Linked DNA regions of Homo sapiens. The protein of the gene in region 2 purifies or fractionates together with the protein of the main gene of each other region. This does not show direct contact. Each region holds a gene or a part of one and is shown on either strand. Other genes may lie near its edges. The genes, in order: PCYOX1, UBAC2, TBC1D15 and TBC1D17.

What was found.
Region 1: the proteins of UBAC2 (region 2) and PCYOX1 purify together in Homo sapiens (affinity purification with mass spectrometry; 2 studies listed by BioGRID and IntAct, with this or other methods). This does not show direct contact.
Region 3: the proteins of UBAC2 (region 2) and TBC1D15 purify together in Homo sapiens (affinity purification with mass spectrometry; 4 studies listed by BioGRID and IntAct, with this or other methods). This does not show direct contact.
Region 4: the proteins of UBAC2 (region 2) and TBC1D17 purify together in Homo sapiens (affinity purification with mass spectrometry; 2 studies listed by BioGRID and IntAct, with this or other methods). This does not show direct contact.

Annotation. Positions count from the first base shown.
Region 1 is NC_000002.12:70,261,120-70,268,142, forward strand, and holds part of PCYOX1 (prenylcysteine oxidase 1 precursor), read left to right. Parts: intron 1-92; coding exon 93-267; intron 268-7,023. UniProt on the Homo sapiens protein: Prenylcysteine oxidase that cleaves the thioether bond of prenyl-L-cysteines, such as farnesylcysteine and geranylgeranylcysteine. Only active against free prenylcysteines and not prenylcysteine residues within prenylated proteins or peptides.
Region 2 is NC_000013.11:99,336,834-99,343,856, forward strand, and holds part of UBAC2 (ubiquitin-associated domain-containing protein 2 isoform 1 precursor), read left to right. Parts: intron 1-3,486; coding exon 3,487-3,732; intron 3,733-7,023. UniProt on the Homo sapiens protein: Restricts trafficking of FAF2 from the endoplasmic reticulum to lipid droplets.
Region 3 is NC_000012.12:71,891,754-71,898,776, forward strand, and holds part of TBC1D15 (TBC1 domain family member 15), read left to right. Parts: intron 1-997; exon of another isoform or gene 998-1,052; intron 1,053-1,468; coding exon 1,469-1,571; exon of another isoform or gene 1,572-1,666; intron 1,667-2,044; exon of another isoform or gene 2,045-2,046; intron 2,047-2,571; coding exon of another isoform or gene 2,572-2,622; intron 2,623-2,932; coding exon 2,933-3,130; intron 3,131-4,193; coding exon 4,194-4,322; intron 4,323-4,923; coding exon 4,924-5,027; intron 5,028-6,093; coding exon 6,094-6,188; intron 6,189-7,023. UniProt on the Homo sapiens protein: Acts as a GTPase activating protein for RAB7A. Does not act on RAB4, RAB5 or RAB6.
Region 4 is NC_000019.10:49,872,971-49,880,712, forward strand, and holds the start of TBC1D17 (TBC1 domain family member 17), read left to right. Parts: upstream 1-4,731; 5' UTR 4,732-4,753; coding exon 4,754-4,774; intron 4,775-5,172; coding exon 5,173-5,271; exon of another isoform or gene 5,272-5,386; intron 5,387-5,527; coding exon 5,528-5,602; intron 5,603-7,308; coding exon 7,309-7,432; intron 7,433-7,742. Other genes in the region: AKT1S1 (proline-rich AKT1 substrate 1), read right to left, coding at 1-332, 3,633-3,685. UniProt on the Homo sapiens protein: Probable RAB GTPase-activating protein that inhibits RAB8A/B function. Reduces Rab8 recruitment to tubules emanating from the endocytic recycling compartment (ERC) and inhibits Rab8-mediated endocytic trafficking, such as that of transferrin receptor (TfR).

The DNA.
Region 1 (7,023 bases), on a different chromosome or scaffold from region 2:
AACTGAGGGAAGCCCCAAATTCACTCAGATTACGTTCTTTCATTTGATCAGCATAGACACCACTGACTTAGCTGTGCTTTATGTTTTTGCAGGTCTCTCTGCTGTTCAGGCCTCTGGTGGCCTACTGGGGATATATAATGGAGAGACTCTGGTATTTGAGGAGAGCAACTGGTTCATAATTAACGTGATTAAATTAGTTTGGCGCTATGGATTTCAATCCCTCCGTATGCACATGTGGGTAGAGGACGTGTTAGACAAGTTCATGAGGTAATTTTTTTTCCTTCCATTTAACCTAAGATCTTTTAATTTAGGTTAAATTAAACTTGATGAACTTTAGGAATTATGATTTCTTGTAAGCATTTTCTACCTCACAGCAAGGCCTGTTTATAACATTGTTAGGCAAAATGTTTTGTAGAAACTATGCAGACTATTTGCTTGGATATTGAAAGGTTGGTTTATTTTTGCTTCTGAAGTGTATTTTGCAAATGCTTCTTTAGTGTTGCCAGATACTGTTAGATGCCTTGAATTCTTATGACAACTTACTCTGGTAGGTACTGTTTTTAGCTTCTTTAAACAGATGCAGAAGGTGGCGGTGTAGAGAGGTTTTAAAAGGCAAGTTCACCCACATAGTAAGTGGTATAGCTGGAGTTGCCACCCAGGCAGTCTGGCCTTTGAGTCTTCACTCTTAATCTCTATGCTGTGCTGGTGTTGTGTATATGAATTGAGATAATGTGTACAAGAGCTTGTAGAAAGGATCAGAAAACTTAAATGGCCTTTAATAGTGACATGTTTTCAGTGAACCAGCAGCCTGAAGTAGAGTAAAAGTTCCATATTCCAAGAATTTACATTCTAGCACTGTTTTGGGTAGTGAGAATTCAGGTGCCTCTTTTTCGTCCTTATGCTTTTCTATATTTAAACAGTTTTTTTAATGCGTGTGAATATGTATCACTTTGGTAATCAGGAAGACTAACATAAAATAGCCAGTCTAATTTTGAAAGGTACAATCTGTATTTTTAAAGCTGTTGGCATGTTCTAGTTTTTTAGTTTTTTTGTTTTTTTGTTTTTGAGATGGAGTTTCGCTTGTTGCCTAGGCTGGAGTGCAATGGTTCGATATTGGCTCACTGCAACCTCTGCCTCTTGGGTTCAAGCGATACTCCTGCCTCAGGCTCCCGAGTAGCTGGGATTACAGATGCCTGCCACCACGCCCAGCTAATTTTTGTATTTTTAGTAGAGATGGGGTTTCACCCTCTTGGCCAGGCTGGTCTCGAACTCCTGACCTCAGGTGATCCACCTGCCTCGGCCTCCCAAAGTGCTGGGATTACAGGTGTGAGCTACCGAGCTTGGCCGGCATGTGCTAATTTTTTTTTTTTTTTTTTTTGAGATGGAGTTTTGCTCTGTCGCCCGGGCTGGAGTGCAGTGGCACCATCTCGGCTCACTGCAACCTCTGCCTCCCTGGTTCAAGCGATTCTCCTGCCTCAGACTCCCGAATAGCTGGGATTACAGGTGCCTGCCACTGTGCCTGGCTAATTTTTTGTATTTTTAGTAGAGACGGGGTTTCACTGTGTTAGCCAGGATGGTCTTGATCTCCTGACCTCGTGATCCGCCTGCCTCAGCCTCCCAAAGTGTTGGGATTGCAGGCATGAGCCACTGTGCCCGGCTAGCACATGCTAATTTTTATGCTGCTTTACAGTTTTAGGTACTGGAGGCCAGGATCGCATCATTACACTCCAGCCTGGGTGACAGAACAAGATTCCATCTTGAGGGGAAAAACAAAACAAAACAAAACATGTCATATGACCAGGTATTGAACAGGACAAATATGAGTTAAGCAGGGCTGGGCACAGTGGCTTATGCCTCTAATCCCAGAATTTTGGGAGGCTGAGGCTGGTGGATCACCTGAGGTCAGGAGTTTGAGACCAGCCTGACCAACATGGTAAAACCCTGTCTCTACAAAAAATATAAAAATTTAGCCGGCGTGGTGGTGCATGCCTGTAATCCCAGCTACTTGTGAGCCTGAGGCAGGAGAATCACTTGAACCTGGGAGGCAGAGGTTGCAGTGAGCCACGATCGTGCCATTACACTCTAGCCTGGGGGACAGAGCCAGACTGTCTAAAAAAAAAAAAAAGAAAGCTAAGCAGGATATGCTCTGGTTTCTATAACTCATGGTAGTTTGGGGTTTCTTTCTTTCTCAACATCATTCTTAGGTCAGTTCCTTAAATGCCTTTCCCGTGGGTACCTTAAGTCCATCTACAGTGCATAATGTTTTTAAGTAGCCATTCATTCATTCACCCAATATTGAATACCTGTTAGGTGCTAGGCATTGTTCTATGTTGAGAGTATAGGACCTACAACATGTCCTTGTCCTCAAAGAATATATATTCTAGTGGAGAGACAGGCAATACACAACCAAGGAAATATATAGAATTTGCGTAGAGACGGCCAGTCACTTTATAGAAGGTGGGTGGCATGGTGCTGCATACTCAGCAGGCAGATCAAGTTCTGATGGCATCAGCCCTGCTTGTGTGTATTGTTTTTCTTTTCTTTTCTTTTTTTTTTTTGAGATAGAGTCTCGTTTTGTCGCCCAGGCTGGAGTGCAGTGGCGGGATCTCGGCTTACTGCAACATCTGCCTCCCAGGTTCAAGTGATTCTCCTGCCTCAGCCTCCTGAGTAGCTGGGACTACAGGCACATGCCACCATGCCTGGTTAATTTTTTGTATTTTTAGTAGAGATGTGGTTTCACCGTGTTAGCCAGGCTGGTCTCAAACTCCTGACCTTGTGATCTGCCTGTCTCGGCTTCCCAAAGTGTTGGGATTATAGGCGTGAGCCACTGTGCCCGGCCCTCTTTTTTTTTTTTTTTTTTTTGATACAGGTCTCACTCTGTCACCCAGGCTGGAGTGCAGTGGTGTGATCATGGCTCACTGCAGCCTGGACCTCCTGGGCTCAGGGGATCTGCCTACCTTAGCCTCTGTGTAGCTGGGACTACAGGCACGTGCCATCAGATCTGGCTAATTTTTTGTATTTTTTTTGTAGAGATGAGGTTTGGCCATGTTGCCCAGGCTGGTCTTGAATTCCTGGGCTCGAGTGTTCCACTCACCTGGGCCTCCCAAAGTGTTGGGATTACGGTTGTGAGCTCCTGTTCCCAGCCTTGTTTTTTTTTTTATCTGTGGCTTGCTTGAGATGTAGAGAATTGCCCTTTGAGAAATTAAGAAATTACTTTTTTTTTTTTGAGATGAGTTTCACTCTGTCACCCAGGCTGGAGTGCAGTGGTGCAATCTCGGCTCACTGCAACCTCTGCCTCCTGAGTCCAAGCGATTCTCCTGCCTCAGCCTCCTGAGTAGCTGGGATTACAGGCATGTGCCACCATACCCAGATAATTTTTTTATTTTTAGTAGAGATGGGGTTTTACCATGTTGGCTAGGCTGGTCTCAAACTCCTGGCCTTAATTGATCTGCCCGCCTTGGCCTCCTAAAGTGCTGCGATTACAGGCATGAGCCACCGCACCTGGCCTAAGAAATCACTTTTGAAGTGAATTCAAGGTATTACAGAACTGGGAAAAAGAACCAGTGAGGGGATACATAGGTTATACTGTTTTTGACTTTAAAAAATAATTTACGGGCCGGGCGCGGTGGCACACGCCTGTAATCCCAGCACTTTGGGAGGCCAAGGCAGATAGATCTTGAGGTCAGGAGTTCGAGACCAGCCTGGCCAACATGGTGAAACTCCGCCTTGCTAAAAATACAAAAATTAGCTGGGTGTGGAGGCGCAGCTAATGCCAGCTACTTGGGAGGCTGAGGCAGTAGAATCGCTTGAACCCAGGAAGCGGAGGTTGTGGTGAGCCAAGATCAAAGTATACACAAGGTGGAGAAAGACCTATGTAACAGTAGTAAACCATGACACTCGAAAGAGGGCTCAAGCTTGTGGTAGGCAATACTCGAAAACAGTGCATTCATTCATTCTCTGCTGTTGGAGGTACTTGAGTGGAAATCCTGCAGCCCCTGACATCAGCACTAGCTAGCTTAATTTCCACTTCTGCACATACATTTATGTAGTTGTTCTGGTTGGATGCCATTCTTAACTAATTTTTTTTTTTTTTTTTTTTTTGAGACCAAGTCTTGCTCCGTCACCCAGGCTGGAGTACGGTGGTGCAATCACAGCTCACTGCAGCTTTGACCTCCTGGTCTCAAGTCATCTTCCAGCCTCAGCTGGGACTATAGGCATGTGCCATCATGCTTGGCTAATTTTTTAAATTTTTGTAGAGACAGGGTGTTGCCATGTTGCCCAAGCTGATCTTGAACTCCTGGGCTCAAGTGATCCTCCCACCTTGGCCTCCCAAAGTGTTGGGATTACAGGCGTGAGCCACCGCGCTCAGCCGGATGCCATTCTTTACTCCCAAGTCCAACCTCTTATCTCACTTTTTCAGCAAAGCATTTCCTTAATGCTTCAATCAACATTCATCTTTCTTTTCAAACATCCCTTATTATACGGTGCACACTGTGTGCTTGTGTTCTATGCTACGCACAGTAACTAGAATGTAGTAGATGTTTACTCAGATGTTTGTGGAATTTAAATCTCTGGTCTGCTGATGGCTTCCTGTTGAGATATCTTGGCTTGTAGACTAGGTTAAAGCTTATTCTTCTCTCTCAAGTTAGTGCATTTCTGGGGACTTGTAAGATCCTTAACACTTCTTGATCTGAGACTGATAGACTCACAGGGAAAGGCTTTATAAACACCCTTTCTTCCTTCCAGTTACTCCTACCAAATATTTTGAGTCAATTTTTGTTCTTTCATTTCCCAAACCCACTCTATCTTGAATCCCATCAGCCTTTAAAATACATCCAGTATTCCACTACTTCTCTCCAGGATTACTGCTACCACTTTGTTCCAAGTCACCACCACTGTCTCTTGTCTGGATTGCTAGAGTAGCCTCCTATTATAGGCTGAATAATCCTCTCCCCTGCTGTCTGCCACAAGATGTCCATGTCTTAATTCCTGGAACCTGTGAATGTGTTACCTTTTGAGGTAAAAGAGACGTTGCAGATATGGTTAAGGATGGGTAGATTATTCTGGATTATCTAGGTGGGCCCAATATAATCACAAGGGTCCTTAGAGAGGCAGGAGGATCAGGGTAGGTAGTAGGAGATGTGATGATGGAAGGAAGAGATTGGAGTGATGCTAGGAAGGGGTGTGCGTCCACGAGCCAAGGAATGCAGGTGGCCTGTAGAGGCTGGAAAAGACAGTCTTCCCTCAGAGCTTCTAGAAGGAACCAGCCTTGTGCACACCTTGATTTTAGCCCGGAGAGACTGACTTTGGTCTTCTAATTTACAGAACCGTAAGATTATAACTTTTTTTTTTTTTGTTAGTATTTATTAATCATTCTTGGGTGTTCTTCGGAGAGGGGGATTTGGCAGGGTCATAGGACAATAGTGGAGGGAAGGTCAGCGGATAAACATGTGAACAAAGGTCTCTGGTTTTCCTAGGCAGAGGGCCCTGCCGCCTTCCGCAGTGTTTGTGTCCCTGGGTACTTGAGATTAGGGAGTGGTGATGACTCTTAACGAGTATGCTGCCTTCAAGCATCTGTTTAACAAAGCACATCTTGCACCGCCCTTAATCCATTTAACCCTTAGTGGACACAGCACATGTTTCAGAGAGCATGGGGTTGGGGGTAAGGTCATAGATAAACAGCATTCCAAGGCAGAAGAATTTCTCTTACTACAGAACAAAATGGAGTCTCCTATGTCCACCTCTTTCTACACAGACACAGTAACAATCCGATCTCTCCTTCCTTTCCCCACATTTCCCCCACTTCTATTCGACAAAACTGCCATCGTCATCATGGCCCGTTCTCAATGAGCTATTGGGTACACCTCCCAGACGGGGTGGCGGCTGGGCAGAGGGGCTCCTCACTTCCCAGACAGGGCGGCTGCTGGGCGGAGGGGCTCCTCACTTCTCAGAGAGGGCGGCTGGTCAGAGAGGCTCCTCACCTCCCAGACGGGATGGCGGCGGGGCAGAGACACTCCTCAGTTCCCAGACGGCGTCGCGGCCGGGCAGAGGCGCTCTTCACATCTCAGACGGGGCGGCGGGGCAGAGGCGCTCCCCACATCCCAGACGATGGGCAGCCGGGCAGAGACGCTCCTCACTTCCTAGACGGGATGACGGCCGGGAAGAGGCGCTCCTCACTTCCCAGACTGGGCGGCCGGGCAGAGGAGTTCCTCACATCCCAGACGATGGGCGGCCAGGCAAAGACACTCCTCACTTCCTAGACGGGGTGGCGGCTGGGCAGAGGCTGCAATCTCAGCACTTTTGGGAGGTCAAGGCAGGCGGCTGGGAGGTGGAGGTTGTAGCGAGCCGAGATCACGCCACTGCACTCCAGCCTGGGCAACATTGAGCACTGAGTGAGCGACACTCCGTCTGCAATCCTGGCACCTCGGGAGGCCGAGGCTGGCAGATCACTCATGGTCAGGAACTGGAGACCAGCCCGGCCAACACGGTGAAACCCCGTCTCCACCAAAAAATACGAAAACCAGTCAGGCGTGGCGGCGCGCGCCTGCAATCCCAGGCACTTGGCAGGCTGAAGCAGGAGAATCAGGCAGGGAGGTTGCAGTGAGTCGAGATGGCAGCAGTACAGTCCAGCCTTGGCTCGGCATCAGAGGGAGACCGTGGAGAGGGAGAGGGGGAGGGGGAGGGGGAGAGGGAGAGCTGTTTTTTGTTTTGAGACAGAGTCTTGCTCTGTCACCCAGGCTGGAGTGCAGTGGCACAATCTTGGCTCACTGCAGCCTCCGCCTCCTGGGTTCAAGCAGTTCTCTGCCTCAGCCTCCCGAGTAGTTGGGATCACAGGCGCCCACCACCATGCCCGGCTAATTTTTGTATTTTTAGTAGAGATGGGGTTTCACCATCTTGGCCAGGCAGGTCTTGCACTCCTGACCTCGTGATCCACCCGCCTCAGCCTCCCAAAGTGCTGGGATTACAGGTGTGAGCCACTGCACCCGGCCGTAAATTTGTGTTGTTTTAAGCCACTAAGTTTGT
Region 2 (7,023 bases):
TAAAGCAAATATACCCATAATCCACCATGCAGGTACAGACCATGCCTGGCCAGCCCCGCAGCCCATGGTGCCCCCCTTCCTTCCCACCTCTCTTCCTCCTTCCCACCTCCCTCCTGTGACCCCTTCCCCTTCTTTCTCCCTCCCTTCTGTGACCCCTCCTAGCACACATAGTCATCATCTTTGCGCTTTCCTGTCTCGTTTTACTGCTTAGTGTGTGGTTTAGGTTCATTCATTCACAGAAGTGGAATCGTGTTTTCAGGCTTTGGGTCTGGCTTCTTTCTCCCAACATGGTGTTTTTAAAATGCAAACCTTAAATATTCCGCATGAATTTGAGGCTTGGCATTTACATTCCAACAAAACACCCTGTTAAGATTTTATTTTGAATGATATTTAATTTATGTATTAATTTGATGAAAATTGGTATCTTAAAAGTTTTGCATCTTCCTATTCATGGAACTGGTATCTTTATTATCACTAGGGTTGGTTTTGAAAAAATATCCCTTATTATCTTTTTCTTTTTTTTCTGTCAAGGCCTTATATATATATTATTTATTTATTCCCAATTATCTTACAGTTTTTCTTGCTGTTATTTGCTAACAGTTTATTTTTTCTTTCTAAACAGTCTGTATTTTATCCCTGGTTGCTTTTAAGGATTTCTTTCTTTTGTTTCACCACAGTGGATCTAGATGTAAATTTCGTTTTAGCATTCTTTTAGGGACTCTTGCCCTTTCATCCTAAGGATTTATATTCTTTCTTTATTCTAGAAAACTCTCAGCTGTTTATCTCTTTAAATATAATATCCTTTCCCCCATATTCCCTCTGTTGTCTTCTTCTGGAACCCCTATGCTGACAGCCGCATGAGATGCACATAATCTGCCTGTGCAGAGGCCTTGGCCTTCCCAACCCACATGGACCCTCCTTGGTTCATGCCCTACACAGCTTTTCCCTTCTCTCTGTGGAGGGGAGAAAGGGTACATGGAGCATGAGGAGGAACTGGGGTGCCTCTTACCCAGACTTAAGTAACCCTCTACTTCTCTCCTCCTTCCACAGGGCCTAGACCCTCTAGTCCAGGGGTATCTAGTCTTTTGAACTCTTCTGTGACACATTGGAAGAAGAATTGTCTTGGGCCACACATAATATACACTAACACTGAAGATAGCTGATGAGCTTTAAAAAAATTGCAAAAAAATCTCCTAACTTTTTTTCTTTTTTTCTTTTTTTTTTTTTTTTTTTTTTTTTTTTGAGACAGAGTCTCACTGTGTCGCCCAGGCTGGAGTGCAGCGGCACAATCTCGACTTACTGTAACCTCCACCACCCAGGTTCAAGCGATTCTTGTGCTTCAGCCTCCTGAGTAGCTGGGACCACAGGTGTGTGCCACCACGCCCGGCTAATTTTTGTATTTTTAGTAGAGACGGGTTTTTACCATGTTGGCCAGGCTGGTCTCAAACTCCTGACCTCTTGTGATCCGCCCGCCTTGGCCTCCCAAAGTGCAGGGATGACAGGTGTGAGCCACTGCGCCCAACCTTGTAATGTTTTAAGAAAGTTTATGAATTTGTGTTGGACCACATTGAAAGCTGTCCTGGGCCACATGTGGCCCACAGGCCTCAGGTTGAACAAGCTTGCTCTAGTCCCTGTGCTTTTCTGAGTCCCACAGGACTCTCTGCAGGCATTTGGACTTATATGCTGCTTATATGCAGAGTGGTTTATAATCACTTGATAAGCTTTCTATTTTGTTAGCATGGTTCAGGATTAGTTTCTGGTTTCATGGACCTTGGAGTTTGTTTCTGTTTTCATTTTCTTTGTCTTGTACTATTTTTGAGTAAAGGGGCACAGAAATTATTTGAAACCAGAAGTTGTCCACCATTCACTCTTCAGCCTACTACAGTCTGTCTTTGGTACCAAAACTGTTCTTGTAAACACCTTGTTTATCAAACACCTCCATTTGCAACATCCAGTGGCTAGTTCTGTCTTACTTATCAGCTGCATTAGATATAGCTGACCATCCCTATTTTAAAACACTTCTTAGCTTCAGTGATAACTAAACTCTATTTCCCTTCTCTTCACTGGCAGCCCTGTCTCAGATTTCCTTACTGGCGTTTCCTACTCTGTCTGTCCATAGAATATTTGTGCACTCCTGGATTCAGTCCTTAGTCCTGTTCTCTCTTCTGCTGTGTCTCCTCCTCCCCCCCATTTTATCTCCTCTAGTCCTGTTACCCTAAATGTCATATCATATCCAGTGACTCTGAAATCCTTATCTCGACCTTTTCCTTGAGTTCTAGAATTACATAGCCACCTGCCCACTCAGTAGCCCCCCAAGATATCTAATAGACACTCCCAAGCTCGGGCTGCGCAGCATCTGCTGCTTTCTCTGCCCAAAATGTTATTTCCCCAGTTCATCAAGTCACGGGCACCGCATCATCCTTAAGATCTTCGCTCAAGTATCACTTTCTCTGAGGGCTCTCCTGATGTCCCCCGCTGCCCCCAGAGTAGGTTCGTGCCCCATGTCACTTTATTTCCTTCCCAGAACTTGCCAGAAATAGTTTTATGTGTTGACTTGATTACTGCCTGTTCTCCACATTGACTGCTATAAGCCCTGTGAGAGTGGGGCCTTGCTTATCTTGTTCTTTGCTGTATTCTAAGTTCCCAGAACAGTGCCTGGTGTGTAGCACAGTCTCAAAGAATTCTTGCCAATTCATCAATTTAAATTTTATTTTTAAACATTGAAGTATACTTTTCTCATATTAGAAAGTTGTCAAATATGTTCTAATCTGATCTTCTAATCCTAAGAATCAAATTCACATCAAGATTTTTTTTTTTTTACAAAGGAATAGCCATAGTCATTTTTAACTAGAAAATCATAGGAAGCCTTGAGACTTCTGTAACCATACATTATAAATGACCTTCAAGATGAAGACAAGGTTGGTTTATAAATGGAACTAATATTGGTGAGGATTTTAAATGTCTAGAAAAATCAGTAGTTGAAAAACTGATTAAAACACTATGTAAATAAAAACCAAGATTTTAGATTGTGTTTATTCTCTGATAAATTGATCGTGTGACTGGGTCAGCTGAGACATGGCAGTTGTTTTCTGCTGGTGTCTCTGTGATGGCCATCTGCCAACAAAGGTAACCGCAGAGTCAGTACAGTGTGAAAGTGTTTCAATAATCAGATCTTTTACGGCTTTTTAAAAAATGAAGACAGTGTCTTGACAATCTTTTACCAGAACTTTGAATACTAAATGATTAGAATTTTGCTAGCTCTTCTAATTCAATAAAAAACAATTTTGTTTTACTAAGTTCAATTTTGTGTTGATTTGCACTGCTTAGTGTTCTGCAGTGTGGTAGAGGATTTTGCTTATTGCCTAACACTGCTATGACTAAGAAAAATACCGTGTGCAGTGTCTGGAGGCTGCTGATTTTTGAGTCGTGTACATTTTTTAAAATAATACTACATTTAAACAATCACATTGGACGTTTTTCTTCTAGATGTCCGGTCTGTGCTACGACAGCAAAATGTTCCAGGTGCATCAGGTGCTCTGCATCCCCAGCTGGATGGCAAAATTCTTTTCTTGGACACTTGAACCCATCTTCTCTTCTTCAGAACCCACCAGCGAAGCCAGAATTGGGATGGGAGCCACGCTGGACATCCAGAGACAGCAGAGAATGGAGCTGCTGGACCGGCAGCTGATGTTCTCTCAGTTTGCACAAGGGAGGCGACAGAGACAGCAGCAGGTAAAAGTGATAATAATCACTAAAAATTTAGAAATTCTCAGTGGCCCAAGCAAATCTTTCCTCTGTGATTGCATGTGAGATAGAGACTACATTTTATTCCAGTGCCTTGCAAGTGGATTTTGACATTTCCAAAGAGATTGTAGGTCTCTGTTAGTGGCCATTCTTAGTTTTTTAAAAAGGTAAAAAATAAATTGCAGCTGAAAGATTGGTCAAACTGGACATTCTTGTTCCACCTATATTAGATAAGCATGACTTCTTAGAGAAACACCAACCTAGTTAACAAGATGTGCTATTTATCTGTTTTTATAATCTTGTAAAAGCCACAGTGTCTTCCTGTTAAAATGCTAATCATATGCTATGGAGTGAAGAACAAATGTAAAATTTCTTGATTTTCCTTGGTTGAAATGAAGAGAATATGAAGGCAAGAAGATTTTCAGTGGAACAACCAAGGAGTAGATAAAAAAAAATGCTGTGTTTTCTCAACCTTGCTATCAATAATCAGAAATTATTGCACATTTGTCTACAAATTCTGCATCCAAACAATCTGATACTACATTTGTCTTCCATGGGCAGTGAGAGAAGGAGGGTTAGTGCACATCAGGCTAAAACCTCAGGCCTGATCTTTCTTGGACACTTCTGTGAGCCAGCCCACAGGGCTCCCCATTTTTCGCCTCCACCTTCTTTACCCCTGGGGTAGTTGTAAACCGTACAGTTACCTCTGCCATCTCTCTGTCTTCCACTAGCATTGGATGCAAGAAGTAGGTCTGCAGATCTCACGATGGTTTGGAGAAGTGAAATCAGGTTTGAGGTCCTTAGAGTCCCATTGGAGATGCAGGTCCCAGAGTTTATATCAGGGGGGGGGAGGAAGGGGGCAGCTTATTAGGGGCAGAGTCTACAAGAGAAATAGAGAAGCAAAAGTTGTTTCTTAAAGATGTGCTTGAATTTGAGTGACTCTGGAACATGCCATAAAGATGCCCATGGTGTATTTAAAGCTGGAGGATGGACATCTCTGTCTTGGAAATGTGGAAGCTACATATATATATAGGTGATGGAGTCACCTCTGTAGGGATGAGAGCTGAGAGCCGAAAGCAAAGAAGTAGTAAGTTCTGTAAGAGAAGAGCTACATCCAAGATGAACACAGGCTACAGATGAAGCCTCGTATTTAGCAGGAGGTAAATCCTTCAAGGAAACTGAGAGAAGAGCGAAAGGTATGAGAAATCAGAATGATCAAGGTCAGAAAAACTGAGTAGTGATTGAGTATAAAGGTAGAGGCACAGAGCTTATGAGGGAGAGAAAGAAGTAGGGGATGGTTCTGATGTTTCTGGCCTAGATAATCTTAGATAGATGACTGATAGTTCCATTTCACCAATATCAAAAGAGCAGATTTGGGGGAAATATGTTGTCTGAGATACCTTTGGAATCCTGGGAGGAGATTCTCCATTGGAGAGCTTTGAATTTGTCCTCATAAGCAAACCAGAGAAGTTGCATTTCTCAGATTGGCCTCCCCAGGAAGATTTTTATACAAAGAGTTTATGAGAGAACACCGTCAGCATCAGTATCTATGGGGGCGGGCTGGCGAAGGCAGCAAGATGGGACAGAGGGAGCAGCTGCAGTTCCAGCAAAAGCCTCGCTGGTCTTATGGAGCACAGTGAAGCTGGGAGAGCCCTTCTGAGTTGTCCCAAAATGGGGACCAGTCCTGTTGGGTAAGTCCCATGCGTACGACCTCTTTGAACCTTAATTACCTCCTTAAAGTTCCTACCTTTAAATACAGTCACATCGTAGGGTTAGGGCTTCAGCGTGTGAATTTGGGGCAGGGGCAAGGGGTGGGAGACAGTGTGTTCCATAACACTGCAGAGTGGAAAGGGCCCAGCATAGTCTCGGCGCTGAGTGACTGTTCTGCTTGCAGACGGTAGTTATCAGGCACACACAGTCTCTGTGGATGCCAGGTTGGATGCTCCATAGTGGCAGGAGATAGGTCGGCCTAGGTGAGGGGGACCCACACATTCCTCTGTGCTACCACCATGGCCATCCATTCGTGTGCCAGCGCTGGGTTATCTGGTGATGGAGCCACAGTCATTCTGTCCACCTTCCATTTGGTGCCTTTTCTGTGGTGGATGCCCGTGGTGGGCACGACCTGCAAGACACTTGATGCTGTTCCTTTAGCTGGATCCTCCTTGTTCCCTCCCTTCCAGTCCCCTGACCGACCAACCAGGTGATCTGCCATGCCCAGCAGATCCACACGTGTAATTGCCTCAGGCCACTTCTCTTCACACAGAGTTGATGACCAAATGTGCTGCCCAGGCTCTGCCCATAGGGGGTTCCCCTGATCGCTGTCTTTCAAGATTGAGCCATCATGCAGCCGTTTCTTTCAGCTGCCACTCATGTCCTGAGCCAGCCTGTCCATTTGGCTGTTTTCCCCTCTGTCACTTGGTCATGAGGGGCCCACCAGCTGTGGTAGTCGGTGTTAGCTGGGAAGAGGCTGTGGTGCAGCAGAGGTGGCTGCCAGGGTGGTCTGGCATGCCTGCTTCTGCAGCTCACCCATGCCCTGCAGCCCCACCTATGCTGAGCCCAGATGCCCGTGTCCATCTGATGATGGGTTTCTGTCGGCCCACCTGGCTTGGTAACTTGGTGGGTCTCCACTGCTGACCACATGCTCACTTTGTGGCCTACAGACAGGCACTTCATGGTGCAGCAGCAGTTTATGCAAGTGGGATTCTTGGCTGTTTGCGCACGCCCTCGCTCCAGGATTCTACGGACCCCCATTGTGGTTCTCCTTTCCTGCCTTGCTGTAAACTCCGCACGGTGTCTTTCCCCCCAGATACTTGGAACATCACGGGATCTGCCAGGTTGTACCCAGGCCTCAGGGAATGAGACAGACCCAAACCCCTGCCCTGCTGGAGCGTGCATTCCCACCAGGCGCCTGTGAAGTGGCACAGGCCTTTATGGCTGTCTACACTGCTGTCAGACTCCTCCACTTTCATAGGATGGTCTCACTAACAGATCTGAAGTCCAGAGCAGGACACCAGCCCCTGGGCTCTTGCTGGGCTTTTACGTTGAGTGGTCTGCTGGGCAGCACAGACCAGACTCTTGATTTTTTCCTAAGCTTCCTAAGTTCTCTTCTAGGGTCCGCACATGGGTACACCCAAACCTGAGCACTTAGCCTCCTGCTGAACTTCTTCACTCAGCTGTGTCTCAGTTTTCTTCACATAAGTATGATAAATCACCACGTAGAGAACTCTTTTGTTAAACCACCACTGGAAATTATCTGCCGTATTTGTGTGCATGCACGAG
Region 3 (7,023 bases), on a different chromosome or scaffold from region 2:
GCTTGTTGGTAAGGCAGTCATTTCATCTTCGGATCTCCAGTTTAGTGGCCACTGTTTAAGATATGGAGCCATAGAGTTATCTGAACCCAGATAGCTGAAAGTTGCCTATTTGTTCCTCTTTTATATGTATAGGCAGTGGTTTGACTTTCATGAGCATTTTTTATTTGGGTTTTAAAGAAATAATTTGACTTAATTTATTGTTAGAAACAAAATGATGGCAGTGCCAGCAGCACTGTGCTAGGAATAAAATTTTGTTTCTTTATTAGCTACTTTTCTTTTCTGATGCTACATTTCAAAGTCCATCATTTAAAAAATGCCTTGTGAGAGAATCTGTAAGTCTGCCTATTAATTATGACCCCTCAAAATATTCAGAAAAGTAAATGTTTTAAAATGTATTTTTTTTCCCTCCTATGTCAAATGACTCAACCTCAGCCCCTTTTGAAAGGCCAAGGGGCTTATTAGCTACTATTGTATATGCAGATCGAGTGCTGTTCCTGACTGTGTAAGAATATAAGATCCTGTTTTGGATTTCATATCCACTCTAGCATTACTGTTACATCCTGTTATGTTAGAATTGAGAAGGGATAACTGTTATTAAAGATCTTATCTCAAACATTTATAATAAACAGGAGGTGTATAGCAGCAAAATAACACATTTAATTTTTATTTTAAACATAGAAAATTTGTAGATTTATTAGAACTGACTAAGTCATAAAACTCACTAAATAGAAAAAAGACTGGATAATTTGTCAGATGACTAGAAATTAGATGTCTGTTTTGGAAACATTTTGTTAAATTCTGTCATTACTAAGAAATGTGAAGAGACTTGCTTCTAGAGTTTAATAAGCAAGAACTAAAAACATAGTATTACCCAACCATTCATAATAATCTTGTTAAAATATGTTCATATGTGTGTGTTTGTAATTATGGTTAGCATGATTAATGATCTTTATCAAATAACTAATATAGCTTACATTTTTAACATCTTATATTGCAGTATTACTAAGCTGTGAATGAAGGTGGAAATGATTTCAAAATAGGACATATTTTCTGTATGTAAATATTATATACTGATGACTCCTAATGTCTGTTTTGGCTTTCTTTAATTTTTATGATAATAAAGCCAGCTATCTTGTAATGGTTTTCTACTATAATTCTAGAGAAGAATTTAGGTTCATTCCAGTTTAATCCTTTTGGCTTTACCTGGAATAAAAATACACTTTATATTTGTTTTATTTACGTTATATACAGTGTATTTAGTATTTGTTAATTTTGTATTTTATGTTTCATGTAGTTTTGAAGCTCCTTTAAAATAGTTACTAAATATTTGCTAATGTATTAATGGAAAACTGTTAAAATATTTTGGGTTTTTTTTTTTTTTGGTAAGGAACATTTGTGTTAGTAATTGTTCATGTAGTAATTGATACAGTGTGTTAGTATTTTCTACAAATCCTCTTTTTTATTATAGATCTCCACAGGATAAAAGAACACTTCTTGTGAATTGTCAGAATAAGAGTCTTTCACAGTCTTTTGAAAATCTTCTTGATGAGCCAGCATATGGTTTAATACAAGTATGTTCCTTAAATCTATCCTGTATTATTCTGACTGCATTATTTTATATACCCTGTACTTCTCATCTTCTCAGAGAGTATGCAAAATGAGACAGGTACATATATATACATAGATATGTGTGTGTGTGTGTGTAATCTTTTTGGAACTATTCTCTAATTTTACAGAAACAATAATAAGTTTTCATGTTATTTGCAAGACTCAGAGGCTTCCTTGGTTCTTAGTTACTCATAAGGAAATTTCTCAGTTTATTATAATACTAAAATTAGACATCAGTAGATTTGTATCATAACTTTTATTGATTAGGCCAGGGATCACAGAGTAGGCCAGTTTGAATTCATTAATGATCGGTTTAGGCAAAAATCTGGTTTGAATTTAAGTAGATTGTTTTGACGTCATGACAATCTTATTCCCCTAAGAATATTTGAGTACTGTTCTTACATTTGGCTAAAAATGTGCACTTAATAATAGGCAGAAGTAAATTTAATTATCACTCAGATGACTATGTAAAGTAATGAGATGGTTTATTCATTTATTTATTTATTCACTTATTCATTTAACAAATATGTGAGTGCTTGCTGTGTCCCAGCTATTCTTTTCCTGGTTTTGAAGATGTAAAGATTAATAAGATATAGAGGGAACTTTAGGAAAGAGGATGAGAGAGAGAACTAAACACTGTTTAAAATGGACAATAAAAGGATAATTTTACTTATTGTGAAAAGAATTATTTAATAAATAACTGTTTTTGCTAAATATGAATGAGCAAATAGTTTGGGCTTCAGAAGTTACCCTGGCACTTAACAGTAGAAAAACCTTTTGCTGTTTTCCAGGGTAGCACTGTCCCAGAATAAATTATTCTTGTTGGCATGATTTACTATTCATATAATTAGATTAAAATGTCAACTAATATTTAAATATGAGTTTTTAAATTTAGCCATCAAATATTTTGTGTCAGAATAGCATGGTGGTACACACTTCAAGAAATATTTTTTTTGTATGAAGGCAGGACTGCTAGACAGAAGAAAGCTGTTGTGGGCCATTCACCACTGGAAAGTAAGCACTGCGTATGTTTTCTGATGTATGCAGATTGAGTGAAGCCTGCAAATCATTTGTTTATCTGCAATTCAATCAGTAGCATTAACTTGTCATTTATTATGCTATTTTAACCAAATGAAATGATTGGCTTAGAAAATTTAAATTTTTCTTTGAAGAAAGAAAATACAAATTTAAGATAATCTTAGAACACTCTGTTTTAGTCCTGATTTCTTTTCTTTTAAAAAGCTTTGCTTTTTTGCTCATGATGGAGTATTCGTTTTTCTTTATTTGAGTTAATAATGCTAATATTTTTCTTCCTACTGCATAGAAAATTAAAAAGGACCCTTATACGGCAACTATGATAGGATTTTCCAAAGTCACAAACTACATTTTTGACAGTTTGAGAGGCAGCGATCCCTCTACACATCAACGACCACCTTCAGAAATGGCAGATTTTCTTAGTGATGCTATTCCAGGTCTAAAGATAAATCAACAAGAAGAACCAGGATTTGAAGTCATCACAAGAGTGAGTAAAGATTAGTATTAATATAGCTCTTATATTTTAACAGGAGAACATGTACTATAGAAATAGAAACTTAATTTTGGTGATATCTGCTTCTTTCCATAATCTGTTCTTAACAACTTTTTGCTAGTATATCTGACAATGAGTGCTTGTCCTGCCACTAAGTTCTTCATTTGTTCTCTATCTTATACTCTTTCTTGATTAATGTTGGATCTCTCTTCTTTGATTACCTTTTGATAATGAAGTTTGTTTCATTGGGTGCATAGCAGAGTGAGGAGCGAACCTTTCCTATTACCTCTTAGTTCTGTTCCTTACTTGCATGTTTTCTCATAGGCATCAGAGACAGCTAGTCAGGATACTACTTTTAGGGCTTTTATTCTCATGTAATACTTCCTTTTTTAAGTAAGATGGGTTTTGGCCTGAATTATGGCAGATCTTTATATGTGCTCAGTAAGATTTAAATTTGCTACAATTCTAGGCTTGTACATAGTTAGAAAACTATAAATATCTAAATTTTAGTGCTTAATTAAAGGGTTTATCTTGCAAATACTATTTTAAAATTACCAACATCTGTTAATTGAATAAAACACTATAGAAAATGCCGAGTGAAGCTAGTGGGTCATGAATCAATTCTGAGAAATACAAACTTTAGAAGAAAAGCTAATTTTTAGAATATGATTAATGGAATAATTATATATTCTCTCTTTTTAAATAATACAGCATATCATTTGGTTTGAAGGTTTCTTACAGAATTTACATGTTGAATGTTCTATACTTACATAATTGAACCCAAAATAGTAAAGAGCTTTCTTTTAATAACAAATATTTTTAGTCTGTGGGGTTTTCTGTTTCTGAATTTATAACCCAGTTTGTTGTGTGTTTAGTAGAAGGGAAATACATGTAATGCTAACTATTATAGTTAAACTAAACATGGGAAAATAAGGAACAATCTTAAAAGTATTAGAAGTCATGTCTGAAAAACAGTATTTTAAATTTAGTTTCTATATGCCTTTATTTCATTTCACTGGTTAAATATGTACTTATTATTGCTTAATCTTATTTTTAGATTGATTTGGGGGAACGCCCTGTTGTTCAAAGGAGAGAACCGGTATCACTGGAAGAATGGACTAAGAACATTGATTCTGAAGGAAGAATTTTAAATGTAGATAATATGAAGCAGATGATATTTAGAGGGGTAATTTAAACACTCTAATATGGCTTGTCTTATAAACTCCTAGTATTTAGGGGTTTTGTTGTTATCGTTACTGTTTTGGTGTGTTTTTTTTTGTTGTTGGTTTTTTTTTTTTTTGGTGGGGGAAGTAGGGAGGAATGAACTCTGTTATTTCTTTGATGAATGATGCCTTAAAATTCCTGGATTGAGTAGGACAGAGTGAGGTGCTTATGATGTTCCTGGGGGTTGGGTAGACCCTTAACTCTGGGGGAAGAATTCTTCCGTACTTGAAGTTCTGTGGGTTTTGTGAAGGAGGCCTGCATTCCAGTGGCATTTGCCTTATTCTGTAAGATTGGGCTTAGACTCACCAGTCACACTGTCTGTCTGCTGTAGTCTACTGTATTCTGTAGTCTACTGTATTCTGTGCACTGTTTAAACTTTCTGGCAGCTGCTTACATCTTTTGGATCTAGAAGTAAAAAACAAGATGATATTCACTGAATTGAACTATTTACATATATGAAACTACCTCTTAAAGATTAGTTTTCCTTTTTATATGCAAGTTTTGTGAACTTACAGTATTACATTCTTTTTCATTCATGTATTTAATATGTATGCTTTCTTCAGGGACTTAGTCATGCATTGAGAAAGCAAGCATGGAAATTTCTTCTGGGTTATTTTCCCTGGGACAGTACCAAGGAGGAAAGAACCCAATTACAAAAGCAAAAAACGTAAGTAATGGTCTTTCGTACATTTATCAAAGAGATTCAAGTAACCCACTCATACAAATTAGTATAGGGTTTCTAGATGAGGATTTGGAATAGACTGGGGAATGGAAAAACAACTTCATTTTTATGTTTTAACTTAAAAATTATGAGCATTCTAATTATTTTAAATCAGAAACTTACTAGAAGCACCTTTTTGCATTTATTTTTGTGAATATGTAAAAAGAAGATAAACATATTCCCTTATATAAGCCTTGTACAAGCCTTTTGCATACTTGAAAGATAACTACGTAGACATACACTTAAAAACATCTCTCATTCATCTTGATTCATTTTTATAATTCATTATGAAATTATAAATGGCTCATAAGAAATATATTTGCTATTTAGATTAATTACCTTTAAGTTACTTTTCTGATACTCTTATAATGGATCCTTCATTCTTTTTGGAAGAGTATTTCTATTTTAAGTTATTCCTCAGACTTGAAAGGAAACACAGACCAACTTTCCAGGTACAACTTCTTGTTCTCAGTTGTCAGTCTAGCCTTTGATTTAAAGCTATTTTCAGTCATTATGTGCATATTTAAGTTATCTGACAGTCTTCTCTTTTCAGCTTGTTTACCAGTTCTTCTAAGACATTTTTACATTAACTAGTTTCTGCAATAAACTGCTTGGAAATGGAACTATAATGTCACATTTTTTAAAAAAAAAGTCACTTAGATTTGTATTTACAATTATTTGGAAACTTTAGTGGTTAAAATATTTCATGACTAGAATACTTTTAGACATGATTTTAAGGATGAGATAAATGTTTTTGTAAAAGAATACCTAAAATTATTCTAGTAGTTGAACAAAGTTTATCACATAAACTTTGTGATATTTATCGGTTATTTTTTTCTTTTGTTTTCACTTATTTATCATAACTTTAAACGTTTTGCTATTGTTTTTATAAACTTACATTCCACTAGCATCATAAATGCTTTGATATACTGTTTATAGAAAAACCCAATTAAACAGTGTTAAAAATAAAGTTTTCAAATAGCTTTCTTTGATGTCAAATTGTTTTCTATAGTGATGAATACTTCAGAATGAAACTGCAGTGGAAATCCATCAGCCAGGAACAAGAGAAAAGAAATTCGAGGTTAAGAGATTATAGAAGTCTTATCGGTAATTTTTTCTTAACAACTTTGGAAATGCAAGGGGGGATTACATTGAAATCTTGATAAGAGTAAAGAAGTGAAGATACATGGTAATAGCACTAGGGCTCAAAAGAGAAATCAGAATAGGAAAGTACATTGCAGTGTGTGTTTAATGTTCTTTGTTGTTCCTCTTCCAATAGGCATATTAATTCAGTAAGTTTATTTATAAGTGTTGATATATTTAATTTTCAGTTCCAAAGTATGAATTTCTAAAAAGATTGTTTACCTTTATTTGCTTTTTGAATTAATTTCATTTTTAAAAAACTTTATTTTCTTTTTTATTATGAAAGTCTGTTTATTGTAGAAAAATTAACTGTAGATGAGCAAAAAGAGGTAAATAGAAATTATTTTTGTTTCTGTCACCCAGAGATAATTATGGTTAATAGGTATTGGTTTATATCCCTTCAGAACTTCTTTAAATATACATATATTTCATTTTTAAAATTAAATAAATGACTCCAGATATAAAATTTAGTATTTGAAAATAGAATATTTACCTGGGGATAACTATTCTCTAAAACACAGAGATGCTTGATAGAATTTTATCATTAAAGCATTAGTTGCATTTCATAATCTCCATTTACAAATGAGAAACTGAAGCATGGAGAACATAAATGACCTGTCCAAGGTCACACATGTCCCAGTTTAATGTTCTTATTACACTGTCTCTGTAATTTTAGGATAGCATTGGATAGTACTGGAACTTAGTTTTGAAATTCCTATATTGTATCTGGATTTGTATATCCGTGGTTTCATAAAGAATGATAGAGGGATTTGTTACTGCTGTTAACACCCTCCCATGA
Region 4 (7,742 bases), on a different chromosome or scaffold from region 2:
CATCCTCGTCCTCCTCGTTGTCCTCTCTGGCCAGGGTAGGCCGGGGTGGGCTGGGTGTGGGACTGGGTGGCTGTGGTGCTGGTGGGGGCGCAGGAGGCCGAGCAGCAGTGGCAGCCCTGTGGGCCAGTGCGATGTCGTGGAGGCAACGGCGCGCTGCCTCCGCCAGGGCTCCTCGACCATGGGCAGCATAGGCACAGGGGCCCGGGCGGGGTGGTGGCGGCGGGGCCGCGGTCAGCAGCACCAGCTCCGTGCCAGTCCGGGCCCGGAAGCGCTCAGCGGCCCCCACCACGGCCTCCCACAGCTCCTCGGGGCGCCCCGACGCCATCCGCGCCCTGCGGGCCAGAGCAGGACAGAGGGGGCTGAGGCTTGGCGGCCTACATCATCGCCACCCACTCAGAGTGCCCGCCCGTCCCCTGGATGGCACTCACCACCCTCCACCCACCTTGTCCCAGCGGTGCTGTGTGTCCTCCCCAAACCTGCTACTCCCCAGGATTCTCACCATCCAGTCCTCGCAGGCCCAGACCCTGGCGACGTCCTCTGCCCCAACCCATTCCTCCTGCCCCAAGTCACTGTACTCCTTCCCCTTTGGCCCTGCCCTGGCCTCTGTGGGAGCCGCCAGCCACATGTGAACAGGGAGTACTGGAAAGGCAGGGAGTCCTAGCAGAGAGTCCTAGCAGAGAGGCCTCTAACAATAAAACCTGCACTGGGTTCTGAAGACTGAGTACAATAAAGCCGAACGAGCCGGGCGTGGTGGCTCAGGCCTGCAACCCCAGCACTTTGGGAGGCCGAGGCAGGCGGATCACCGAGCCCAAGAGTTCGAAGCCAGCCTGGGCAAAAAAAAAAAAAAAAAGGAATTTCATCTGCTTTTTTTACTCTTTTAACATGGTGTCTAGAAAATTTAGAATTCCACGTGGGGCTTGTGTTGAATTTGATGGATGATGCCACCCTGCTCCGTCGCCCAGCCATCCCGTCAAGAGTGTCCTGCACAAGGCCCAGGGGGTTCCTTCAGCACCCGGAGCTGATGCTACTCCTCGCCATAGTCCTCAGGGCAGGCCCTGGAGGCTCTAGGTGTTCTGGCCATCCCCAGCTCCTGGGCCATCCTGCCTCCACGGCCTTCCAGAGCCTCTGAGGCCCGAGGCCTTCAGAAAACGTGGTCCCTGACCTTGATGACTTGTGCTCCATTCCCCACCAACCTTTCACTCATCCTAGGGTGGAAGAAACTTTCCCTCGCCCATAGATCCAGCCAGTCTGCTCCATAGGGGGTCCCACACTGTCTGAGTGGCCACCTTCCCAGCACACTTCCTTCCAGAGGGAACTGGCTGGTTCTATGACTGAGGCCTCAGAGAGTCGGGGCTGAAATGGTGCTGGCGCTGCTCTCTGTGCTGGGAAATCCACACGGCTTTTCCTACAAGACTGTTCTGGCAGGTCCTCTGTTGTCCCTGATCCCCCAGGGTGCATCAGATGACTTCAGGAGCCCATCCGATGCCCTGGGCTTCCTCCATGAGCATTCATGTCACCTGAGCTTGTGACAGCTGTAACCTGGCTGCCTCCTGCATCAGACTGTGAATTCCCCCAAGGTCAGGGATTTGTGTTTGCAGGACAGGTCGGCCCTAAGCAGACAATGCAGGGTGCGTCTCCTTACTGGGTGAGAAGAGCGAGGGCAGGGGGGCTGGGTCCTTGCCCTGACTCTGTCTCAAACCTGCTGTGTGACCTTAGATGGCTCACTGGCCCTCTCTGTGCCTCATTTTCTTCCCCATTAACCAGCGTGGTTGAGCCAGAGCTGCTGGGCTGCGGAAGACGCTCTTCCGGGAGGCAGTAAGCACACCGCCACTGCACGGATTCAGGCACAGCTGTGGTCCAGCCCACCAGGGTGAAGGGAGCAGGGAGTCTGGAGTCTGAATGAAATTTGCAGGCCTTTTATGACTCACGATCATTGATGTTGGTGTTTGCTGAGCACCTATTCAGTGCTGGGATTCCACACCTGGCATCTCACCTATCTGACTCACTCAGGGAGTTCAAAGCCCCAAGGGAAGGAAGAGGTTTATCCACCACCTCCCAGAAGCCACGCAAGGACCCAAGATGGGATCAACCTTCTCATCCCACCCTTTCACCTACACTATGAGACAGGAGCTTTAGTTACAGTTCACCCCATTTTACAGTTGCAAACTCAGGCCCAGGGGCAGTCAGCATCTTGAAGGGCCACAACTGGAAGAGGCAGGGCTGGGACCTGGACTCAGAAAGTCTAGATCCGGGGCCTGTTCTAAATCCTGACCGCCATCCTGCCTGCCTTTAGGAGGGCAGATATTCTAATCCAGATGGAAAAGTGAGGCTCAGAGAGCTTAGGACACTGGCAAAAAAGCACACAGCTACACAGGGCACAAGTGGGGCTGAAACTGTGAGGCTCAGAGAGCTTAGGACACTGGCAAAAAAGCACACAGCTACACAGGGCACAAGTGGGGCTGAAACTGCTGACTGCCCAGCCCCAAAACCCCACTGAACTGGGGGGTACCCGGTGTCTCAAACACACCCATGTCCTTCCCAGCTGATGAGGGAGGAAACTGAGGCTCTAAGCAAGAAATGGCTGGTCCAAAGTCAACTGCCTCGCCGTGCTAGGCCTGGGGCTCTCACTTCCACGGGCCTCCAGCCCCTAATGACATGCGGAGAAGAGGGGGAGAGGAGGTCCCGGAAGAGAACGTCAGGATGAACTCTCCGTGTACTCAATCTTGGAGTAGCCACGGGATTAAAGAGTGAAATAGGGTGAGTGAGTTGTGAGGGCTCCCCCAACTCAGGAGACATGAGCAAAAAGGACAGGGCGACTTCCACAGACCTCTTTGCCAAGGTCCAGGGGCACCCTGTAATGCTACCCAACAGGAGAGTAGCCAAGACCTGGGGGTCCTCCTTACCCTTCAGCTTCTAGAGGAGGTCCTGTTTCCTCCAAGGAGCTGAGAGATGGAGGAAGAACCCGCCCCGATAGACGAGTTTCGTGTAAGATCAGGGAGAGATTAGAGGAAAGTGAGACGTGTTCCCCACAGGAGGGGGAGCACGATGTGGCTGTCCTCTTTGGATGCAGGGAGGAGGGAAAAGAGCTAAGGAGGAGAGGGGTGGAACCACCCCTCCTGTCGAAATTTTAGTACCCCACACCCCAAGATGTGAGGAACCTGAGCATGAACGCGGTAGCCATGGGGTGAGCGCCTGGGGCCACGCTCAGCTGCCCCGAGACCTCCCAACCTCGCCCGGGGTCCAGGGAGGACCCACTGGTCTAGGAAGAAAACAGGAAATCCCGCCCAGACGGAGGCCAGGACCGGAAGTCCCGCCTTTGGACGGGTGAGGGGCGCCCCGAGGCCCCCCAAACCATCCCCCGACCCCGTGGACGTGGTCCACGGCCCAGGTAGAGATCCCAGGCGCTCTGGAACCGCAAGGTGAGACTGTCTACGATTTGCCTCAGGTCTGACAGGACGATTCCCACGGGCGACCCCCTTCCAGCGCTCAGCAAAGGATCGCTGGCAGACCTCTGCCCTCTGATCTGTGCAGGCCATACCCCTCCCGTGAGCCGCTCGCCCTCCCAGCGCCCCGCTGCCTCAGGACGGCCAAATCCTCCCCACACCGCGGTTAACAACGCCGCCTCCACTCACGTGCCCGTAGCCAGCATGGCCGGCCCGGCGCCGTCACCGCCCTCAAAAGACATGGCGGCGCCTTGCGTCACGTCCGCGCAGTTGCCCCGCCTCCTCTCCGCACACTCCGCCTCCCTTATCGGGGCCGCCCGAGATCAAGATGGCGGCCACAGGGGCTTCATCCGAACCAGTTGACAAGGGTGACGACAGCTTGCCCCTAAGAAAAATGGCCCCGCCTAGAGCATTTCCATTTGCCCCCAACAATAATGGCCGTCCTCATATGCTCAATCATGACCACAGTAAACGAAGGCAAGCGACCTGACGTCCCTGACCCACAATAAACTTCTTCGACAAAAGTAGAGGAAATCGGTGCTCGTTAACAACATGGCAGCCAACCGGGCTTAATCAGCCCATAGTGTATATTGGCTCTCCCTCCCTCCAACCTGCTCCCATTCGGCACGAAGGCTGGCAAAGATCCAACACGGCAGCATTTCTTGCTTCGGTTTGCCAGGCTTCAAAATGGCGGCTCAGCCCGCTTTCTCGCGACGGTGACTCAGAAATTCGTCCGGGGCCGCTTCGTTTCTGGGGGCACTGACGGCTTCATCCCGTTATCCTGAGTCCCTCAGTGCCTCTTGTGGTGTACAGCTCCTCTCACCTCCTCTTCTCTTATCCGTTCGGCTCTTCCAGCTGTCGCGCCCCGCAGAGAGATGGGACAGCCCCGTATTAACATGGCCTTAGCTGACCGGCTTAGGCCATGCCCTCGAGCAAAATGGTACCTCCTTGGCTTCAATTCCAGTATACAATATGGAGAAGGAAGTGGGCGTTTCAAGGCGTGCTTGCCCCAGGTGGTGCAGCTCTCAGACCCTCCCACTTGTTTACTTCGTGGCGAGAGGGCGAACACTGCGCCTGCGCACTCTCCGTAGCCGGATCCACCTTCAGCGTCTGCGCCACGTGACTCCGATCCACCCTCGAGGTTCCAGTGGAATAACCCCCTTCTGAAAAATGGTTTCACCCGCTCCTTCTCTAGAACGGGTCGGGCCGCTACCACTGTCCGGCCCGGAGGGGAACTGTTTTCTCCGGAAGTGACAACACGCTGACTAGGAAAAGGAGGAGGCGGGGCAGTGGGGCCTTCGGCGGCGACTATGGAAGGAGCCGGCTACAGGGTAAGCACTGAGGACGCATTCCCTCGCTTCAGTGTATGCGAAACGCCCCGTCTAGTGATCAGCTCTTCTCTCAGGCCTTGGCTCTCGAGAATCCGGCACGGCCTTGGCAAACACCGATCTCTTATAAACGCGCCGTCACCCTCCCGTCCACCGCCCCAGGGAAGAACCTCCCATGGCCCCGCCCCCCCGGCTCAGGCGACTCCTTGAGCCCTGCCCCCTGTGGAACGCACGTCAGCATCCGAACGCGGGCTGGACCATTCTCCCCGCCTTGGTCCCGGGGCAATGGCCCTCCCGGCCCCGCCCCCTGAGGGTGGCTCCTCCCTGGGCCCGTCCCTATTGGCTCCCCAGGCTGGTCCCCTCGCTTGGGCCCCAGCCCTCGCTGGTTCCCCCCAACTCAGGTGGTGTTTGAGAAGGGCGGAGTGTACCTGCACACCAGCGCTAAGAAGTATCAGGACCGAGACTCTCTCATCGCTGGTGTCATCCGTGTCGTGGAAAAGGTGCGCTGGGAGGGAGCAGGGCTCGGACCCGCTCCGAGCGGGATGCAGGCGGTCTGGGATGCAGGCGGCAGCTGTAGGAGTTTGGTCTGGCGGTCAGCAGTGGGACCTGAAGAAGGCTGGGTGTGGGAACTGGAATGAGGGGCGGGACTTTGAAAGGCTGAGGGTAGAAACTGGGAAAGTTTGGAAATTTGCAACGGAAAGTTTTGGGAATGTGGTTTGGGGAGCGCCTCTAACCCCGCCTCCCTCCTTACCCTAGGACAATGACGTCCTCCTGCACTGGGCTCCTGTAGAGGAGGCTGGAGATTCCACCCAAATCCTCTTCTCCAAGAAGGTAGGCTCCACCCGCTTTGCCCTTCTCCACTCGCTTTTTTTCTAGGTCCGTGCTGTTGTAAGTCATTTGAGGGACCTGCGTACAATCCCAGACCTACTCGTGGGGCATGTGTGACCCTGTTTAGGCTTGGGTACTCTGCCTCTCCTTTTGCTCCTCTCTGTGAAATGGGCAGAGGATGCCCATTCAAGGAAAAAGAGCAGGGAGCATAAGACGCACGGTCGTGGGGACGGCTGACCCCTCTCTCCCTTTGCTTCTTGGGAGATCCCTGCCAGGGTGCAAGATGTGGATTCGAGTTGCTTGAAGGGAAATGGCATTTCCTCTGGTGCCAGAGGACAGGGCCTGACAGCCTACTCACCCACTTCGTCACTGCTCCCGGCTTTCCCTTCGTTATGTCTCCTGGGACTTCCCATGGCTGGACCCCGTCCTGGGCAATTCTGAGACCCAGAGATAAGTCAGATCCAGACCCACCTAAGCCCTGACCCTTACTCACTTTTTGAGAAACTGATAGATGAGGTCGAAAACGCTAGGAAGTGTTGGAACTTTTTGCACCCAGACAGTCTGATTCCAGATCCCCAACGCTTCCTGGGAGAGCAGACATTTGAGCTGGGACTCCCAGGATATGAAAGGACAAGAAGGTATTTCAGGGACAGCAGAACAACCTTCAAGGCACACGGAGAAGTTGGATGCCTCTGTAGGGGGGTTCTTTAGTGGGGAATGAGACCTCCATTGGAGCTGATGAGTTCCACCCAGGGGCCGGAAGTCAGTCGGCACCCACAGAGCTAGTGACGAGACACTGGAAGGCTGAGCTGACCACCTGCGCTGCCCCAGGGCAGGAGGATGAAGATGAAGATGAAGATGACTCTCCACCTTGCTCCACAGCCAAACACAGCCAAGGCACCAGGAAGTTGCGTTACATCACTTCCGCTTTCCAGGTTGGCCTGCATCTGGTTGGTAGAATTTGTCCTGTGTCCTGGATTCCAGCTGCAAAGAAACCTGGGAAATGTAGTGTGTTTTTTTTGTTGTTGTTATTGTTTTTTTTTTTTTTTTTTGACAGTCTCACTGTCTCAAAAGAGTGCAAAGTGGTATCTTATTGTGGTTTTGGTTTGTATTTACCTGGTGAGTACAACAGTGTCCATTGAGCACTCCGCAGCCTGACTGCAGAGCCACCTGCTGTGTAGCATGGACCTCCCCATGCAGTGGGAGACATGGGGTCAAGTCCTGGCTCGCTCTCTGGCTGCATTGGGTGACCCTGAGCAAGTGCTGTACTTTCTTTTTTCTTTTTTTTTTTTTTTTTTTAATGAGACAGAATTTGCTCTTGTTGCCCAGGCTGGAGTGCAATGGCGCCATCTCAGCTCACTGCAACCTCCGCCTCCCAGGTTCAAGCGATTTTCCTTTCTCACCCTCCCGAGTAGCTGGGATTACAGGCATGCGCCACCATGCCTGGCTAATTTTTTTGTATTTTTTTAGTAGAAACGAGGTTTCTCCATATTGGTCAGGCTGGTCTCGAACTCCCGACCTCAGGTGATCCGCCCGCCTCAGCCTCCCAAAGTGCTGGGATTACAGGCGTGAGCCACCGCACCCGGCCTGCTGTACCTTCTTTGTGCCTCAGTTTCCCTCTTTATTCAATGGGGCTATCTTCCAGGGTAGCCTCGAGGCTAAGATCTGAATCCATGGCCCCTTACTGTCTGCTCCTTTCCTCTCCTAAGGACTCCAGTGGGGGTGACTCATGTGCTTCTGAGGAGGAACCAACCTTTGACCCCGGCTATGAACCTGACTGGGCTGTCATCAGCACTGTGCGGCCACAGCTCTGCCACTCAGAGCCCACGAGAGGTAGGCTGAGGTGGCGGCCCTTGAGAAGCACGTGTGGGCCAGGTAGGACACATCTTGCCCTCAGTGGTCACGGTCCCAAGGGCTTTGCTGCCCACAATCAAGAAGGCCACCAGTCACCACCTTCCAGTCCCAGGAGCATGGAAGTGAATGGGAAGACAGGACTGTCCCAGCCCAGGTCAACATGGCCAGTGTCTCTGAGACTGCAGCCTTGCTCATCCTACTGGGCTCCCGGATTGGCTGTGGGTGCTCCCACACCAGGCCTGCCCCTGAGGTTCGAGGCTGGTGGGGTGACAGATGCAGCCAGTTAGGG